Regions from separate parts of the Homo sapiens genome. Here region 1 is linked to region 2. The links come from fine-mapping of genetic effects on gene expression. A gene starts in region 2. The other region holds a variant in brackets. All regions are shown on one strand. Distances are between the middles of the regions. Region 1 overlaps TVP23C-CDRT4 (TVP23C-CDRT4 readthrough). Region 2 holds the start of PMP22 (peripheral myelin protein 22).

Region 1 (10,005 bases), 220 kb after region 2:
CAATGTTTTCAGCCTGAGCAACTGAAAGGGTTGACTTGCAATCATTGAAACAAGAAAGGATGCAGGGAGAGCAGATTTGGGGTGGGATTGGATTAGGAGTTCTGTTTGGAATGCATCAAATGTGAGGTGAAGAAGTTCAGGAAATGCCACCTGAAAGCTGATGCTTTGGTGTGCCGATTACTTTTAACTGAGGGCATTTGGGGAGCAGCAGATGCAGGCAGAGGCTTTCTCTGAGCTCCCCTTATCTGCCTAAGGACAGATCCTCCAAAAGGAATTCAATTGTCATGAATTCCTTCCCCAGGAATCTCATCAACCAGGGAAGAACACAGGAAAGGAGATAAGATTGACACCAGCACTGACAGACCATCACTTACTCCTCTCAGGCAACGTTTATTACCTGAGAGACGTTTAACAAGACAACATTTATTTGCCACTCATTTCCTCCCCTCACCCTCCCATAACTTGTTCCGCTACCACCCCCCAGAAGTTCCAAGTCCCTATTCCTTTCTGTAGCTGAGGATGCTATACAAGCTTCAATCACTTAACCTCTCAAGTCTCATATTTTGTGGGACTCCCATGTCCCACATAATTAATGTATTAATTAATTAATACATAATTAAACGTAGTTTTTCTCCTGCTATTCTGTCTTATGTCAATTTAATTCATAGCCCAGCCAAGGAGCCTAGAAAAGTAGTGTCTACCAGAGAATTGGTGAGTAGAGAGGTCAAGCAAGAATAAGCAAACACCTAGAGGGCATTTGGGCTGCAGAGATGAAGTTTTTAGTAGAGACAGGGTTTCACCATGTTGGCCAGGCTAGTTTCCAACTCCTGACCTCAAGTGCTCCGCCCACCTAGGCCTCCCAAAGTGCTAGGATTATAGGCGTGAGCCACCACACTCACCCTAAAATAATTTCTTAATAACTCCTACCACACTAGCATTCAGTCCATTGCAAGAAGATATTTGAAACTTAGAGACTGGGTGAGGTCACCTAGGAAGTATATATAGATAAAGAGAAACCAATCTGAGTCCTGGGGTGCTCCAACATTTACCACCTCCACGGCTATCACCCAGGCCCAAAACATCCTCAACTACATTTCAGCAGCCTCCTAACCAGCCTCCCTGGTTCCACACTTGCCCATCTCCATTTATCTCCACACAGCAGGCATAGTGGTCCCATCAAAATCAGATCCCACCACTCCTCTGCTCAAACCCTGCAAGGGGCATGCAGATGTGGTACATCCATATAACAAGATCATATTTGTCAATAAAAAGAACTCGGGTACGGATACATGTTCCAATGTGGATGAACCCTGAAGATATTATCCTGCATAAAATAAGCCAGTCACAGAAGACCCTATATCCTGTGGTCCATTTACGTGATATGACCAGCATAAGCAAATCTGCAGACAGAAAGTACATTGATGGTTGTCAAGGGTTAGGGGAGAGAGGAATGGGGTGTGACTGTTAATAGGGATGAAGTTTCTGAAATTACACAATTCTATGAATATACTAACAACCACTGAATGGTACACTGGCCATGAGTGAATTTATGGTACATGAATTCTATCTCCATAAAGTAGTCCCGCCTTATCCACAGGGATTACATTCCAAGACCGCCAGTGGATTCCTGAAACTGTGGATAGCACCAAACCTGATTGCCATTAGTCAGAACGTGGAACATGTTTCTGTTCATGTCTTCTACCCACAAATTTAATGCTTTTTCCATCTTAACTAAGCACTTGTCATACATCATGGTCATAGCTTTTGCAGTTTGAATTGCGACAGCAAAACTAGTAGGAATTTCTTTTTCCTGATTCACAATTTCACAGTTTCACAGATAGAACATTCGTTCTTTTTCTTTCTTTTCTCTTTTCTTTTCTTTTTTTTTTTTTTTGAGATGGAGTCTCGCTCTGTCACCCAGGCTGGAGTGCAATGGTGCAGTCTCGGCTCACTGCAACCTCCACCTCCCGGGTTCAAGTGATTCTCCTACTTCAGCCTCCTGAGTAGCTGGCATTACCGGTGCGTGCCACCATGCCTAGCTAGTTTTTGTATTTTTAGTAGAGACAGGGTTTCACCATGTTGGCCAGGATGGTCTCAATCTCTTGAACTCGTGATCTGCCACCTCGGCCTCCCAAAGTGCTGGGATTACAGGCTTGAAGAAGGTTCATTCTTACTGTAGAACTTAACAACGTCAGCAGATGTTTTTTTTTCCGTCATTGAGAACTTTCACCTTTTCACTTGAAGGAAGCACTTTATGACTTCTCTTTGGCATATCTGAATTGCCAGCACTGCCACTCTTGCACCCAGGGGCCATTACTAAGTAAAATAAGGGTTCCTTGAACACATGCACTGCAATGCTGCCACAGTGGATTTGATAACTGAGTCAGCTACTAAGTGGCTAAGAGGTGCAATTTAAAATATGAATTATTTCTGGAATTTTCCATTTTATGTTTTTGGACCACAGTTGATGGCTGGTAACTCAAGCTGGTAACTTTTGGAAAGCAAAATTGTCAATAAGGGGAGGGACCACTGTAGAGCTATTTTAAAACTCTGCCCTGGCTCCCCCTACTATGCAGACAGAAGCATCATCATTCAAAGCCTCACATTCTACCGACGCTCTCTCCCCAATCTCTGATCTTCACTTCTCCTACTGTCCCCCTCCTGGCTCCTCCTGCCCCAGCCACTGTAGCCTCCTTGTTGTGCCTCAAACATGCACACTACAGACGCAAATCTTTGCACCTGCTCCTCCTTCTCCCTCCATTTATCTATGTCATTACTATGACATATGTCACTACTTTACCTCTCTCAAGTCATCATCCAAACATCACCCTGTCACTTGCCAAAGCGGCCCTCCTGGCAGCCCACATCTGCCCATGGTGGTGGTATACGCTCCCCAATCACTTTCTTGCTTCATGTTTCTTCATTATCCTTCTGATTATTTAGGCCACTAGATACTTATTCATTTTGTCTATTACCTGCAACACCAACTAGAAGGTAACTTGCACAAGGGTGGGAATTTTCACTGGATGTATTCATTGTCGAATCCACAGGACCTAGAACAGAGGCCAGCACCCAGAAGGCACTCAATAGACATCTATCTTCAGTGGTTATGTGGTTATTTCTGTGCACTGTCTTATGGGCAACCAGATTTCTTTTCTGAGGTTGTTTGTTGTTTGGGGAGATTTTGGGGCCTTGCAAGTTTTGTACAATGAATATACATTACTTAGATAGTCAGGAAAAAATGTTATATAAGGGGGAAAAGTCCTACCACTGCTGCCACTGCCTGTGGGATGCAATCCTGAACTCCTTAGCAGGCGCTGGCTTTTCCAAAGTCAAAGCTCTTCCTCCCCTCCCTTTCCACTGCCCTAGGTCAAAATGAATCCAGTGGAGTCCTGGTTCCCCGAGATGAAAGTAGATGTTCTCTGAAACAAAAAGAGAGAATTCCCTGTGCTTAAAAATGGTTAAACAGGTTTTGTCGTGTTTGGTTTGGTTTGCTAAGAGCCTGCAGTAAGCTTTGCACATCGTGGAACTCTAAGAAGGCCACATAGTGGGATACCCACCCTGACATATTTGACCCCAGAACCTCCTCTTTTACTGGCTCATCTCCAAGGACTCGAGTTCCAAGGAACAAGTCCCAGGGACGTCGCCCCCATCAGACAGGACACTTGGCTGTGCAGCAGCCCAAGCTCCTGGAATCCTCTCCCCTCCTCCACCTGTAGAAACTCTACCCATGCTTCACAAGACAGTCCTGCTTGTGCCCTATCTAGGAATCCTTCTCTACTCTCAGCCCCTCATTCCCCTGTGTTTCTACAGAACATCACATCTATGATGAAAGCTCTTATCATGGTCATTGCTCCAGCTGTCATCAACAGCTGTCATCAACTGGTGTCTTCAACACCAGACTGCAAGCCCCTCGGGTGCAGCAATGGGGCCTCCTCCACATGGGTTTCCCAAGGGCATGGTGTGATGCTGGGCTCTGGGAATGTTTATGCCCCAGAACTGCCACTTTGGAGGCAGGTGGGCCTCCCTTCTTGGGGTGAGCAGCCCAGCAAGCAGGCCGGCGAGGAGCTTCATGCAGCATCCTTTCCGCTTCCCCTTCTCAGTATCTCTGCCTAGGGACAGAAAGTCCCTGGAAACCTAGGGGTGAGGATCTTGGGTGTCTTTTTCTTAGCTGTTCTCTTTATCTTTGGAATTTCTTTAAAAGGCTGTTTTTTAATTTAATTTTTTATTTTTATTTTCATTTTTATTTTTTTTTGAGACGGAGTCTCACTCTGTCATCCAGGCTGGAGTGCAGTGGCACAATCTTGGCTCACTGCAAGCTCCGCCTCCTGGGTTCACGCCATTCTCCTGCCTCAGCCTCCCGTGTAGCTGGGACTACAGGCGCCCGCCACCATGCCCAGCTAATTTTTTTGTATTTTTTTTAAAGACAGGGTCTCGTTCTGTTGCCCAGGCTGGAGTGCAGTGGCACAATCACAGCTCACTCTAGCTAATTAGAAAAAAAAAATTGTAGAGGAGGGGGTCTCACTGTGCTGCCCACGTTGGTCTCAAAATCCTGGCCTCAAGCCATCCTCCTGCCTCAGTCTCCCAAAGCACTGACATTACAGGAGTGAACCACTGCATCCAGCCAAAAGGCTGTGTTTAAATCAGAGGACCCGGTATCTGGAATTAACCTGGCCTGGCTATGATGGTGTCATATTGAGTCTGGCATCTTCTGTTAACTTACTGGTTGGCAAAGGAGCTGTTTGGAAAATAAAAACTGCCTTCTCTGTGGGAAGAGGGTCGATCTGCTGTGGGGGTTGGGGGGAGTGGAAAGCACCTTAGATTGAGAGTCAGGAAGCTCACATTTGAGTTTTAACAATGTCACTAACATTATAAAGGTTTAGGGCAATCA[C/T]CTAACTCTTCCAAAACTCTAGTTCCTTAATTCTAAAGTGGAAGAATTTTAGGGATCCTTCACAGCTCTAAGACTAAAGATCAACTTAAAAAGAATAACCCTTGGGGTATCTATTTGCAGAGAACTGTCTTTCTTTTTCCTTTTCTTTTTTTTTTTTTTTTTTTTTGAGATGGAGTCTCGCTCTATCGCCAGGCTGAAGTGTAGTTGCGCAATCTCAGCTCACTGCAAGCTCCGCCTCCCGGGTTCACGCCATTCTCCTGCCTCAGCCTCCTGAGTAGCTAGGACTACAGGTGCCCGCCACCACGCCCGGCTAATTTTTGTATTTTTAGTAGAGACAGGGTTTCACCATGTTGGCCAGGGTGATCTCGATCTCTTGACCTCGTGATCCACCCGCCTCAGCCTCCCAAAATGCTGGGATTACAGACGTGAGCCACGGTGCCGGGCCTGCAGAGAACTGTCTTTCAAAACGTTCTAGTGACCACATAGTACAGTCTCACACAGGGAGGCTCCGTGGCCTCCACCACCAGCCAGCAACGTCAGAGGGGATTGTTCACGCCCTTGCTAGTGTCTTCCAAGATGGTCCTTTGAGAGGTTTGTAGTAAGTTTGTAGAATACTGGTGAGTCGGTCAGGGACAGCTTGAGTATGATTCGCAACCCCCAAAACCACCTCCCTATGGGCAAACCGTATCCACAGAGCACATTCATAAGCCTGATTTAAAATACTCGCTCCTTGTGCCTCAGCCATTACTCTCTTTCTGTCCAGGTCTCTTATTCTGACTTAGTGGAAAATAAGGTTGTTACAGCAATGGCTCCATTCGTCCTGTGGGCAAGAAACTCATGGAGAGAATTAGTCAATTCTTCCTGGACATTCGGGAGCTTCTGGGTGGAGGGAAGACTGCGAAGCAGAAACAAACAGAAATCCTAGAGAGGCAGTCATCTGAGCATTCGTCACAGGGGCACTCCTAGGATCCACCCTCAGAAGCCGTGAAAGGCCCATTGATCTGGCTGGGGCAGGGAGTGGCCCTGAGCTGGTGACATCTCAGGCGAGGAAAGGCACAGATGTCTGTGCTGGCTGTGATAAGAGGCTTCTCAGGAAATCTGAGTCACCTCGGGCCGGCTCTTCGAAGCATAGAGGCCCAGCAAGCACCACAGCCTGGAGGCAAAGCTTCCTGCTAGCCCTGGGACCCTGGGACTTTGCATTTCCTGTTGGTGTCCTTTGACTTGGGCAGCCACCACCCCTGGGAAGTTTTCCAACACCCTCACTCATGCATTTTGAACCTGGTGTTCACAGCTCTTTGTCTCTGCTCATCTCGCTTTTGTTTCCTCTGGAATGTTCCAAGCCCCCTGCATCACCCCATGCCAGGAATCTGACATCCCAGAGTGGAAGCCGGCTTCATGTTACTCACCCCACCCTGTGATTTCCTGATGGAGGATCCGGAGACCTGAACTCTGGTCCAGGTTTACAGACAACTCATAATCATGGTTGAGGCCCCTTTCTAGGCCTTACTGTTCTCATACTTTTAACTGGGGATGGGGGCAGGATGGGAAACTTTTGGAAAAACAGACTTTTTAAAACTGGAATGATGCTAGACATTTATTTGCTACTACCTGCTGGCTGCTGCCTGTCATTTCATCATTACATAGAAAAGAAATGCTCCAACATTTTGTCATGCATTTACTCCTTGGTATAAGGGAAGGATTCAAGAAACGTCTTATGGAAGCAAAAATAACAGTAAATTATGCAAAGGCACTGGTTCCCTTCAGGGGCTGGAGTAAGACTGGTGAGAGTCGTGGGAAGGGAAGAAGCACAGAGAGAAGATTCCACTTCACGCATATTTTTTAGGGTTTGGCCTAAATAAAAGGACTTTCAGAGATTATAAGAGAATATTTGTGTTTAAAAAAAACACGTTAGATAAATTTAATAGAGTTAATTGAGCAAAAAATTATTCAAGAATTAGACAGACTCAGCACACCCACAGTGACTCTGGTGCATGGTCGGAGAGGATTTATAGACAGAAAAAGAAAGTGATCTACAGAAAACAGAAACAGCTAGGCTGCTTACGGCTCCGTGTCTGCCTGATTTGAACACAGTTTGAGCAGTTGATCGCCTGTGATTAGCTGACACTCAGCTGCTCTGATGGGCTGACACTGGGCTAGTGGCTACAAGCCTCGGTTACAGTCTCTGTACACATCCAGTTAGGTTATCATCTGCACAGCGGAATGTTTAGGTGGAACTTAAAATATGTAAGGAGGCAGCTTGGGCTAAACTTGTTAACATTTGCTAGAGAAAAAAAAAAACATCTGGGAGTCAACCAATCCATCTTTGATTTCTCAACTATGGAGACCACCACCTTGAGCATCTTCTCTAAGGTCCCGTAGCCAGGAGTAATACCTGGTATCTTGACTTCATAGCCCATGACATTGGACAAGCCTCTCAACCTCTCAGGTCTCAATTTCCTCAATTGTCAAACAAGGATGACAGTAGGATTGTGGGGAACTAATGAGTATATTTACTCGATTTTGAAACAGTAGGTGTGCAATAGATGTTACATTGCCATCATCATCATCGTCATCATCATCATCGTCATCATCGTCATCATCATCATCATCATCTCACTATCACTACAGCTGCTGTTCCTGCCACCCAGGTCTCCCAGCAGCAGGTTGTCCCCTAGAACCACACCCAAACCATCCTCCTAACCAATGCTGTGCACCCTTCAGTAAGACTTTTCAAAAATGGACATAAAACAAAATAGTTCTTAAATGAGCCTACTTCTATTTTTCACATCCCCATTTCCCCAAGACGTACCTGTGCTCCAGATGGAAAACCATCAATTACAATCCTGCTCCTTCTGCGGCAGGGCAATGGGGAGTCACCCAAAGGAGCAGCGATGCTCAAGCCCCCCACAGAAGGACCCCCAGACTCCCAAAGAGAAATGGACGTGAACGTGGGTGAAGTCTTGGGCTGATCAGAGAGCAAGCAGGGCCAAGGGACATGAAGACAGGTGTGTTCTTAGAGACTGGTCACAGGAAGGAGCAGACTACCTGCCCCCTGCCCCCTAGTCCAAGCCTGGTTCTAGGTTAGAAGCGAATCAGCTGGAAGAGGAACAGCTGCTGAACAGAAAGCACAGCCTTGTGCCCTCCCAGAGAGCAAGGCATGGCATGCACAGCCTGCCCCAGGCTGCTGCCAGGGCCACCGCGGGGGGTCAGCTTCCATTGCTGAGCTGTGCTACGCCCTGGGAGCACCAATCTTTGTCAAAAGAATGGATTTGTGCAGCTAAACCCCACAGGGCCTGGCCATTGTGGACCTGTCTGTCTGCATTTCAACTCTGGGCTTCACTCTTTGGTGAATGTGAATCTCCAGCGGCACAGGCAGCCAGAACAGAAACGCCACGCAGTCTCACCCTGTCATGCCAAGAGCTTTGTCCGCTTTGGGACAGAGCCCTGTGCTGGGAGTCCATTGGGGAGACTCACAGGGATCCAGAAACCTGCTCCTGCCCTCAGGGAGCCTGCTGTGTAGCCTGGAGAAGGAACTCATAGGCATTTGCAGTACTGTCTATCTTGGGGTCTGTCATTCTCATCTAAATTAATGTTAACAGCACTAACTTAGCCTTTCTTACATGGGTGTGAAAACCACCAACATTCCTGGTATTAGGAGGTGGGCCTTCAGGAGGTCATTGGGTCATGAGGCTGGAGCTTGATGAAGGGGATTAGTGCCCTTATAAGGGGATAAAGAGACCAGAGCAAGTGTGCTTGCTCACTCCCCTTCTCTCCCTCCCTCCCTCTCTCTCCCATCCTCCTGCTCTCTCTCCCCTACTCCTCCCTTTCTCCCTCACCCACCCCCTCTTCCTCTTTTCCTTCCTCTCTCCCTCCCTCTCTCCCTCCCCCTCTCCCTCTCTCTCTCCCTCTCTTCCTCTTTCCCTCCCTCCCTTCCTCTCTCTCTCCCTCCCTCCCTTCCTTTCTCACTCCCTCTTCTCTCCCTCCCTCCTCTCTCTCTCCCTCCCTTCCTCTCTCTCTCTCCCTCTGCAGATGCCTGGCCATCTGCAAGCCAGGCAGAGGGCCTTCACCAGACACTGATCTCTGCCTTCCCATCTTTCAGAACTGCAAGAAATGAATGTCTGTTGTTTAACCCACATCTTGTTACAGCAGCCCACACTGGGCAAGATAGTGCTATCCAAAGAAAAGGTAACAAGTCCAATTATTCACTACATTTTCACATATTTGAAAAGCGTATGCAAACAGTGTGTTCCCAGTAGTCCTTTTTTTTTTTTTTTCTGGAGACAGAGTCTCGCTCACGCCTGTAATCCCAGCACTTTGGGAGGCTGAGGAGGGCGGATCACGAGGTCAGGAGATCGAGACCATTCTGGCTAACATGTTGAAACCCCATCTCTACTAAAAATACAGAGTGGTGGTGGGCGCCTGTAGTCCCAGCTACTCGGGAGGCTGAGGCAGGAGAATGGCGTGAACCCAGGAGGCGGAGCTTGCAGTGAGCCGAGATCATGCCACTGCACTCCAGCCTGGGCAACAGAGCAAGACTCCGTCTCCAAAAAAAAAAAAAAAAGAAAAGAAAAGAAAAGAAAAGAAAGAAATTATATTAAACCACTCCCTGGGAAGTCAATTAATTTTCTGTAGAACAAGTGCAAAATAATACTTACCAAGAAAAAAGCTCATTAATTTGGTCACTAAGAGAAGAAACCAAAATATAGACACATCTTCTAAATTATACCCAAGTAGCAAAAACAGTACACACTGTTTGTAAGATGCTGGAAAAAGAGACTCCATGATAAATGTTGAGCTTAGCATAAAGCAGTTGGCTTTTATTCTAATTTATTAATAGGCAAATTCCTTTATCAGATGATATTGTTGGATACTATAATATCAGTAATACCACGTATAAGAGCACTTACTACTGACAGTGACTGCAGATGTTTTCATCTGTAATTTGTCTAAGCCAGTGCTTCTCAACAGGGGTCAATTTTGCCCCCCAGGGGACATCTGGCTAAATCTAGAAGTATTTTTCATTGTTACAGCTGAGGAGGAAGAGGGACAAGAGAGTGCTACTGGTGTCTGTGTGTCAAAGCCAGGAAATCTGCTAAAATCCTACAGTGAAAAAG
Region 2 (9,673 bases):
TCCCAGGCCCCTCTGTTCCTCTCCACAAGCATCACATTCAAAGAAACTCTGGAATGCACTGGAAGAAATAAACAAGGATTTCTGATGACTCCCAGAGGGTTTGAATTAAGCCGATGGCAGGAGGCTGGGAACTGGGGAACCACAGGAGTCCAACACTCTCGGGATGTCCGCCACAGGGACTGTTTTGCCAGTGTGTCCCAGAGTCAACGCCTCTTCAGCAAGGCGAGAACTGGGCCGCCCTTATCCGCTATCCAGACACCAGCACCATCACCCTTGCCCTGTAAGGTCTTATAGACCATAAAGGCTCTCCTCGTTGTATTACTCCAAGACCCATTGGAGGGAAACAGGACACACAGGGGACCCTGTGCCCCTAAACAGAAGCCCCAGGGAGCTGGCCAAAGCCCCGCGCCTGCGCTGCGCTTTCTGGCACCCTCACTGGAAGATGCCCACATTTCTCCTCCATCTCCTTCACTCTCCCCACCAAATCACTTACAGCCCAAAGGAACAGCTGTCCCGATCCTCAGGGTGGCCTCAAACACAAACTCGGGTGCGTTGGCTCCGCTGCTGGCGCCGCCAAAGCTGCGCTGCGGGGCTGCGCGCGCGCGAAGCAAGGGGGCAGTGGGAGGCTCCTGGCGTTCCCCTTTAACGGGAACAACGCCCTGTTTGCGTCGCTGCAGTAGGGTGTGTCCCTGGGTCAGCGTGTGCGGGAGGGCGGGACTCAGGGAGGAGAGGGGGCAGGAGAGAGGGAGGGCAGGAGACAGTCACTTGGCCTTAAATGCGCCTCAAGAAAAAGTCGGTCCCTGCAAAACCGCGGCGACTTTTACTCGAAACCAGAGGCGGCTGAGCTTTCTCACCTCCCACCTCCCTTCTCCCCTGGCCCCGTGGAGACCTAGTGTTGACCGAGAAACTGGCTCCTCAGCCCACTCTGGGAAGACCCAGCCAAATGTAGCTCAGCGGATGCCCAGGGCTGGGCTTCTGGGCCCGCCGACGCCGACCGCGCCCGCGCGGGGCTGAGGCTGGATTCCTTTCCCACTAATAGAGGGCAGCGGGCGCTTGAGCGCTGGAAGAAGTCCCTCTCCTCTCGGGTCCTGGAGCCCCTGCCCTGTCCTGGCGTCTTAGCCGGACACACCTGCCCCGCGCCGGTCCCCGCTATTACTGTCTGCACCTACGAAGCATGCCAGCTTCCTAGGATTGGCGGGGATTGATCTAGCGGGCTCCTCTTGGGTGCGAATTAGGGGAAGAAAAGTCCGGCCGACTACTGGATAGCATGGTCTGGGATTGGGCTCCTCCTAGCCTAGGCAAAACCAGACTACCACCGAATAAGCTCTAGGCAAAGTGTTCCTGCAGCAGTCGGGCTTGGCTGTCAGCCTTGGCTGGAGTCCTGGCCATGGGGTTTGGCGGGCGGGTGCGAGGTGGCCATTTGAGGTGGGGTTGGAGCAGCCAAGGAAATCAGCTGATTCATAGCCTCCTAACGTGGCCCGCCCAGCGTTACAGGGAGAGAGGCTAGCCCCCTTCAGTCTCGGCTTGGCAGAGGCGCGCCCAACTGAGACTCCCGTGCGCAGGCCAGCCTTGAGGCACGGGACAGGGAGCAGGAATGTGGATGTTAAAGGTTTCTGCCTGAAAATGCAGCAGTTCACGCACGCGCGCGCACACACACACACACACACACTTCCCTACCTCTAGTGTACTGTGTCATAGAAGCTCATCACTCTCAATGATTCAAATAATTCTATATTATTTTACGATTTGAAAGGAGCTGCTATTTTAGCTAATTGTATATTCTTACGGTAAGTAAAAATAAATTTGAAAAAGATCTTCAAACAATGATCTTTTTAAAACTATCGTGTTATCAGATTAAAATGAAGTGTACTTGTAAACACTGCATTTACAGTGCCCGTTATATGCCAAGCACTTTGCCTGGACTTTATATGCATGGTCTGTGAGAGGCAGTATGGTGCAGTGGTTAGGCACTCTGGCTCTGGGCTCCAACAAACCTAATCACCCTGCTTACTTTTGTTGTGAATTTGGGCAATTTCTCAAGTTCACTGAGCTTCAGTTTTCTCAGGTGCAAAAGGAAATAGTAATGCCTGCTTTAAAGGTTTATGGTGGTGATTGAAGGAGACAATATGTACAAAGCAGTTAACATCGTGTCTGCAACATAATAAGGGCCCAGTGCCCAAATTGCCACCACTATTATTATATCACATTTAACTCTCACATCAACCTTTCAGGGAAGACCTGACCACCTCTGCACTAAAGTAGCTTGTAACTCTGATAGGTAGGTAGGTAGGTAGGTAGATAGATAGATAGATAGATAGATATAGATAGATAGATAAAGATTTATAAATGAAAGTGCATATGCAAGTAGAAAAAAAAGTCTAAAGACATGGCAGTGTTTTCTTTCCTCCACAGGTCATTTTATAAGTTAGATTTGCTCTAGAAATTATTACTTTGTTTTATGCCATTTGGACATTTATTTATTTAACCAACACTTATGTGATCACAACATACTCAGGACTGTTCTAAGTAAGCACTTTAGAAATATGAGCATATCTAACTCAGGGTTTTCTTTCCCTTCCTTTGTGATTTTCAAATAAACTTTTTAATAAAGTCTAATACACATACAGAAAAGTGCATATATTGGGTGCTACAGCTCGCTTCTTCCTTTCTTTTGAACCCAATAGTTTAATCAATAACCACCCAGGTCACAGCCACACCATATACTGCCAGACAGGTAAACCCAACCCATCTGTCCCTCACTGCCTCTGGCCTCCTGCCTGGTTCTCAATGGTGGCAGAGGAAGTGCTACTCAGTGCCTGCTGACCAGGCTTGCCACACCCAGAGCCCGGCTGGCCAAGGCTCTGCCACAGGTGGCAGCTTCTCCCTAACCTGCTTACCAAGGCCACCTGCCAGCTGTGTGTGCACAGCTATTTTCCATGGGGGAAAAAGCATCTAGATTCCTTTCTTCCTTTCAATCTGGATGCATTAGGGTTTCTAGATGCTCTCAGATGGCCCCCCACCTCCCCAGCCAGAGTATATATCCACCTTTTAACCAAGGATATAAAAAGCCCTCTGAATCTCCAGTCAATTCCAACACAAATGCACCATCTCTCCTGCAATCCTTTTCATTTGCGGCTTGCAGGGGGTGGGAAATTAGGCAATTCTTGTAAAGCATAGGCACACATCACCCAGAGGCACAGTTTGCCAATAAAACTCACCCGGCCAAACAGCGTAACCCCTTCTTCCAAGCAGATTTCTTTGCAGCCAAATGCAAGGGATGTTAAGGCAAGACCCTCCCCACAGGGCAGTCAGAGACCCGCAGCCGACAGACTAAGCCTGCAGCTTCCAACCAGGCTCCCCGAGATGTTCCCTGGTGGTGCTCCCTGTAACTGAAGCCAGACCAGGCGTCTTTCCAGTTTATTCAGGGGCTGGTCCAATGCTGGGATATGTCATGGTGGCCTGAGAGGTTCTCAGCCTCTATTATTTAAAGAGACAGTGTCCAACTTTGTTTGCTTTCCAGAATACAATAATCCCAAGAGGCCCTGCAGGGCATGGAGAAACTGGAATCAGAAGGGAGAAGAGCTTTGAGTATGCCTGAAGCCTGTGATGCCAAGACTGTTCTCTCTGGAAGTGCCAACCTGTGTAATAGCCAAGAGGTCCCACTGGCTCCCCTCCCCTCCCAGTGAATTCTGCAGAGATTAAATATACTGTGGGAAGGATCTGTGTCTACAGTGTTACATACGTGCAGGTAAGTTTTATTTTAAATAAACTTCCTTTTAAGGAGCCCAAACATTGCACAGCTAATCTCTCACAGCATCACAGCAGTGAGCCAAATGTCTCAAGAGTCACCAAATCAAGCCTCCTTTGTTCCAACCCCTGGTTGGAAGGACTCCCTGTTACCTGCCTTGTCTGCCTAGACCCCATCGCAAATGATCACATGTGTTGTACATTAGAATAAAACTTAGGGAAATGTGTTCTTCCGACTCTGTCTTTAATGTGCCCGAATCAAGCTGACCTTCATGAGATAATTCAATGCAAGTAAACGAACCTCTATTGAAAACTATTGAAAACTTTCTAACCTGTCAGGCAGAATAGGCTGGAAGAGCAATTGGAAATTCTTGGAGAGGGAAGTAAAGGAAGTTATGGCATATTTAGGTTCTTTGCAGCGTACCACTCCAGCTCCCAGAGAGTCCTCCATCCCTTGAACCGCTTCTAGCTGCAAACTCTGACACAAGAGGACTGGTTTCATTGCATGAGTTTCCTGGAATTCTGGCACTTGGGGCATAAGACTTCCTCTTGTGTTAGGGATCCCCAGTCTGGAGAGACCTGCAGAATTTGGAGGAGTCCCTCCCTGTCACACACTTTACGTTTGATTGGACTCTCCAGTCACAAGGGCCTCTCAATGGCCCTCTCCCCTGTTCTGCCCACAGCCAGCATCTGCTCACAGCCAGCATCACAGCCAGTGCCAATAAAATAGTTTCACCTTTCTCTCTTTGCTGAAATCATTTTTATTTTTCACAGCAGTGGTTCTTTAGAATCACTCAAGAGCTTTGCAAATGACCTAGCCTGGGCCATGGTCAGAGAAGCTGACTCAGGTGTTTTGGGATGGGGCTCAGGTATGGGTAATTTCCAGTGTCTTTCTCCCCGCTGGATGTTTCGTTGTCCAGCCAGGTTGTCATGTGGAGTTAGATTGTCGCTGATTTCCTTCCAGCTCCCTTCTGTTGTGGAACCCAAATGGAGATGAGGTACAGTGTGGGCTGCTGCAGTATTATGCAAGTTATAAGTCTGTTCTGCCAGGCAAAACGGTGTGTGTGTGTGCGCGTGTATCTGTGTGTGTGTGTGTGCGCGTGTGCGTGTGTGTGACAGAGAGAGAGAGAGAGGAGCCTCCCTCAGTCCTCCTCTGACATGGTCTGTACGGGGACTGGGAACAGTGAGCATGGTTTTTGCAGCCTCTCCAGACAGTCTTTTCCTGGGTACTGCCATGATCAGCTCCAAAGGCTACACGACAGAGGCTGCTGTCCGTCAGGCCAGGATCAAGCCTGAAGACACGTAAGATTATTTCTGATCTAAGAGCTAAAGATTCAGAGGAAAAGGGGTAGGGCCTGGTGAGTGTGGGGCATGGCTTCTGGCCAGATAGGAGCAGTCTGATTAGCCCTCCCTCTCTCCTTCCATGAGCTCCACATTCTGAGACCTGCTCTCTTGGCCTCACGTCTCTTTTGCCCAGGTCCTCCATCTCCAGCAGCCAAACCCCGAAGTCCCTGTTGGCTGTCAGCAGTAGAGCTGTTCACTGTTGTGTGCCACTGGCCCTGTCTACCAGATGCCAACACACTTGTCTTTACCCATCTGGGCCAGACTCTCTTCCCTTCCCAGAGTCAGGTGAGGAAAACTCCTTCCTCGTCTCCCATTTCCAATAACCTTTTCTCAGCCAAATGGGACCCCTATCCCATGCATCTGTGTTGAGCAATGTCTCTGCAAAGCTGTAGGCTATATCCCACTGAGCCTCTTGCAAAATAAACACATAGAATAGTCACCAAATAACATTTATTATTATTTGCTATCCTCCCTTCCATTTACAGATAGGAAAAATGAGAATCGGGATTCTCTGAGGAAACACAGTTGAGTCAATGAGACTGGCTATTTCTAGCACCTGAGCTGTTCTGCTACACCACGCTCCATCGGCTCAGTAGCATCAGTTATCCGCAAGTCCTTGATAATGATGATAATAGGTTATATTTACTTCGTGTTTAGCATATGCCAGGCACCATCTTGAATATTTTATATGCATCAAATCACTTAATCCTCACAACCGTATGAAATAGGCACCCCATCATCCTCTTTTAGAAGAGGGAGAAACTGAGGCACAGCGAGATGTTCAGTCACTTTCTCAAGACACACTGCAAAGAAATGACAGAGGCTGGATTCCAACCAGGCATTCTGGCTACAGATCCCGTACTCACAGCCTGGACTATCTCACATTCTACCGTGCCCCTAATTGTGCCCAGCACGTTCCTAGCATATCTTCTCATCATGCTTCCATAGACACTATCATTTAATGTCCTATTTGTATGAAAGATATTCTCACATTATACATATTTATGCATTCACGTTTCTTTTTCCATTAAAAAGCAAGAACATATCCTAAGACATCCATTTTTTTTTCAGCACCAGTCACATTTAGTACAGCTTTCAAGAATCCTGTCTCATCCTGCCAACAAGGCTGTGTGCTCCTCCGAGGACATTTGCATTCCATATGTCTGTATAGCATAAGCACTGGCAGAATCCTGCCTGTAGGTGAGATTTTAATTTCATAAGAATGAAATGTTGTCCATGACAGTGGAATCCCAGCAGACTCTTGAAGAGGGAGGAAACCCTTCCGCACTTTATAGCTAATAAAATGCTGTTAACATATGGCAGTATCTTATTTAAGAGGAATCATTATAATCATTTTCTATGTGAAGAAACTGAGGCTTGGAAAATTTACAGTGTTTCCTCCAGGGACTAGCTAGTGAATGCCAGGGCTGGGGCTTAAAAAAGTCCATTCCTCTGACTCCCAAACCTGTAATTTTTTCACTGTGCAGGCTCCCCAGAGAGAAAACCAGAGGCAAGTCTGAATTTGGTGTTTGTCCAGGTGATGAAGTTGTTGTTGCAGCATCTATCCCACCAGGTGCTCAGTCAATATCTGAAAAGTGTTTACACTAAGAATGAAGTCTTTCCTGTGTCCTCATAGCCAGCAGCCTGTGTGGGAGTTCTTGGCCAGCCCTGGACACAGCTGGCCTGGAAGGGTCCTCAAAAGTCAGTCCTGCCTCATCTAGACTCAGCTAGACTGTTTTGATGTCGAGTGAGAGCAGCTTGTTGAAAGAACAAGCAAGGCAGGGAAAGAAGGCAGAGGGGAAGGAAGGAAGGAAGGAAGGAAAGAGGGAGGGAGGGAGGAAGGAAGGAAGGAAGGAAAGATGGAAGGAGAGAGGGAGGGAGGGAGATATAGATAGGAAGAGGGGAGGGAAGAGAAGGAGAAGGGAGAAGAAAAGGAACAGAAGGAGCCAGTTTGACTTCTGTGACAGAATCTTCTACAAATAAGCAAGTTTGAAATTATGACAGGTCCCAATCCCTAGAAGATATTCTTTATGAACAACACAGACGCAGTCAGAAAGCAACATAAAGACACACACAAAAAAAAACTCACATTGGCACAGGACTGTTCCCTAAATGACATCTTTAAAATATAGAAAGGTATCTTGGAGTAAATTGTATATTAACTCCTTCACCTGTGGGAGAGAGAAGTCACAGAATTATTATGTTGTGGCAGTGGGACCAGACCAAGTACAAAGGATTCTCTGTTCACAAATGCATTGTTGCTTAGGAAAGCCAGATTCCACAGATGCAAGTGGAGGGGGGAAAGCAGTCTTTTCTCTGACATCTCATGAGTTAGCAGCTAGAGGATTGGGGAGCAATTTAAGCAAGAGTCAGAAATGGATGTGTACTTGGGATTGCAAACTCTAAAACTTTTCTAAGACTGTTTACTCCTAAGTGAAAATGCTTCTGCTCCAGTAGGGCATAGGTTCAAATAAAATGGGGAAGCAGAGCAATCTTGCCACACGGGAATGGACGGAATGGGGAGGAATGCAGGGATTTTCTAGGCCACTGCAGACCAGGCATAGAAATGTCGAGAAAAGCAGCCTTGGCTTGATGTGAGAGATTGTCCTTATTGAGAGAGGTGCACAGGAAGGCCCATGTAACCCAAGGAAATGCCTGCTTCAGGCAGTCGAAGCCACACCAAGAAATGGAGCATTAATCTCCAGCAAGGACGAGGTGAACGCAAACGGTCCTGGATGGGACCCTGGGAGGACAAGCCCCACGACGCATCATAGTCCCCACAATGCATCATTCTGTGTGCACTTCTGAGCCTAGGGAGCACCAGTTGTACTTAAAATGAACTGGAGACCAGATGTTTTCTTCATCTCTGAGTTCCTGCACCACTTATCAAGTGTGAAACCTCAGCTAATCCAGGGAAGTTCACAGACAAAGGTCAAATCCTTTCGAGACGTTCAAGGGAAAGCCGGGCAAAACTTCAAGAATGTTTACTCTTCATTGTTAGACTAGGAAATATCTAATCTAGAGGGTTTCAGTGGTAAGCCTGGGCCTCATATAATTGTTTTACTTTAAATTTTGGGCTCAGAAATTAAAATTCTAGAAATGTATCTTTAGAAAGTCATGGATATGCAAAAATTTGGCTATAATGGTATTCATAGCCAAATAAAGGTGATATGTTTTATAACAAAGAAAAGTGTGAACATCCTAAATCTCAAAGACTAGAGGAATGATTGAGTAACTTTTGGTACAGTCATAAGATGAAATATTATGTAAGTATTAAAAAATAATGTCCAAGAAGAATGTTTAATGAAATGAAGAGCCATTCGTGATGGATACAAAATAGCACACCTATAATTTGTTGAGCACTGGCTATGTGCCAGGCACTGTGCTAACCCTCTCATTAAATACCTCCAACAATCCCACGAGGGGAGAACTGCCGTGACCCCCAAGACACCCACACAGTGAGAAAATGGTGGAGCCAATATATAAACTTTGACCACTTGAAGCCAAGACCCCAGGTTCTTGACCACTAAATGCCACCAAATGTACAGTCTTTGAGTACCACTGTGACAAAAATGAAAGTAAAACTGAAAGAATGCGAAGACTGAAGAATGCAATATGACAGAATTTGTTCAACACTGTGTCTCCAAGTTCTAACATTAAATGGGAGAAATAACTGCATGGAGCTGAACACATAACAGGATTCATTGTGACGAGCGATCGCACATCTCAGCCTTGTGCCTCCATCATAAGGAGTCTGTGACTCTGTAACTTCGGTGTAGGAAACGCACACTGCGTCAACCCCAGGGAGGCACTGGGAGGGCCACGAGCCAGGTCTTGCTTCATCTTTTGCACTGACCCCAAGTGGAGTCACTCCAGGCACAGAGGTGGTATGGCAGTATTGGAATAAGCTGTGCATCTTACAATGTTGATGGTAAAATGCAGGCATTTATATAGACCATGAGTTTAATAACTGTACCTTATACTTATTTAAATACATTGGGAGATTAAGAAAAATAAAAGGAAAAAAGAGAAGTGGTTTTGAAGTTTCTTGGTCTTGAGGGAGCCTGAATGAGCCAACAGTTCATTGGTTTAGTTATGTGACTTTAAATATGAGAATCCCTCCAACCCACAGCAAGAGCATGGTCAGACATGTGGTTCAGATGAGTAAAACTGCACTGACATTTATGGTCAATTTGACCGAGGGAGAAAACTCTCATGGTTTCCAATGGTCTATCACCTACTGCATTGCCTTCTTTCTCAGAATCCCTCTCCCTCTTGCTTTCCCTACCCTCCCTCCCTTTACCTCTCTCTATCCCCTTCCATTTTTTTTCCCTCTCTCTCTCTCACGTTCCAGCCTCACAATGTGAAACCATAATGAAACCGCAATCACTTGACTATCTGAATTCTATGATTTTGTGAGCTCCTTGATTATTGGGAGACCCCAGGTCATTTTCGAATTCCTCATCCCAGCAAAATGTTTCTGCCCATCCTCCCCAGGGGACAGTCCCCATGCTCTCCTGCTTTACTCCTGTCTAATCTTGGATCATTTAACCTGCAACTGTGTCTTGGGAATCGCTAGGAG

Evidence for each region. PIP is the estimated chance that this variant, and not a neighbour inherited with it, causes the effect. A credible set is the group of variants that fine-mapping cannot tell apart.
Region 1: its variant is the best candidate, but not a certain one, in a credible set for the expression of PMP22 in whole blood (INTERVAL, PIP 0.77).

What each region holds. Positions count from the first base shown.
Region 1 is chr17:15,484,913-15,494,917 of GRCh38, forward strand. The region is part of intron 4 of TVP23C-CDRT4 (TVP23C-CDRT4 readthrough); the gene reads right to left. Among named protein-coding and RNA genes, the nearest start is that of CDRT3, 19 kb to the left of the region's middle. RefSeq lists enhancers at 5,434-6,633, 5,923-6,217. The variant C/T (reference allele first, on the strand shown) is at 4,892.
Region 2 is chr17:15,261,936-15,271,608 of GRCh38, forward strand. PMP22 (peripheral myelin protein 22) reads right to left here and starts at 3,391. Exons shown (of 5, transcript NM_000304.4): 1 at 3,219-3,391. LOC124903931 (a long non-coding RNA gene) reads left to right here. Exons shown (of 2, transcript XR_007065632.1): 2 at 3,521-3,974.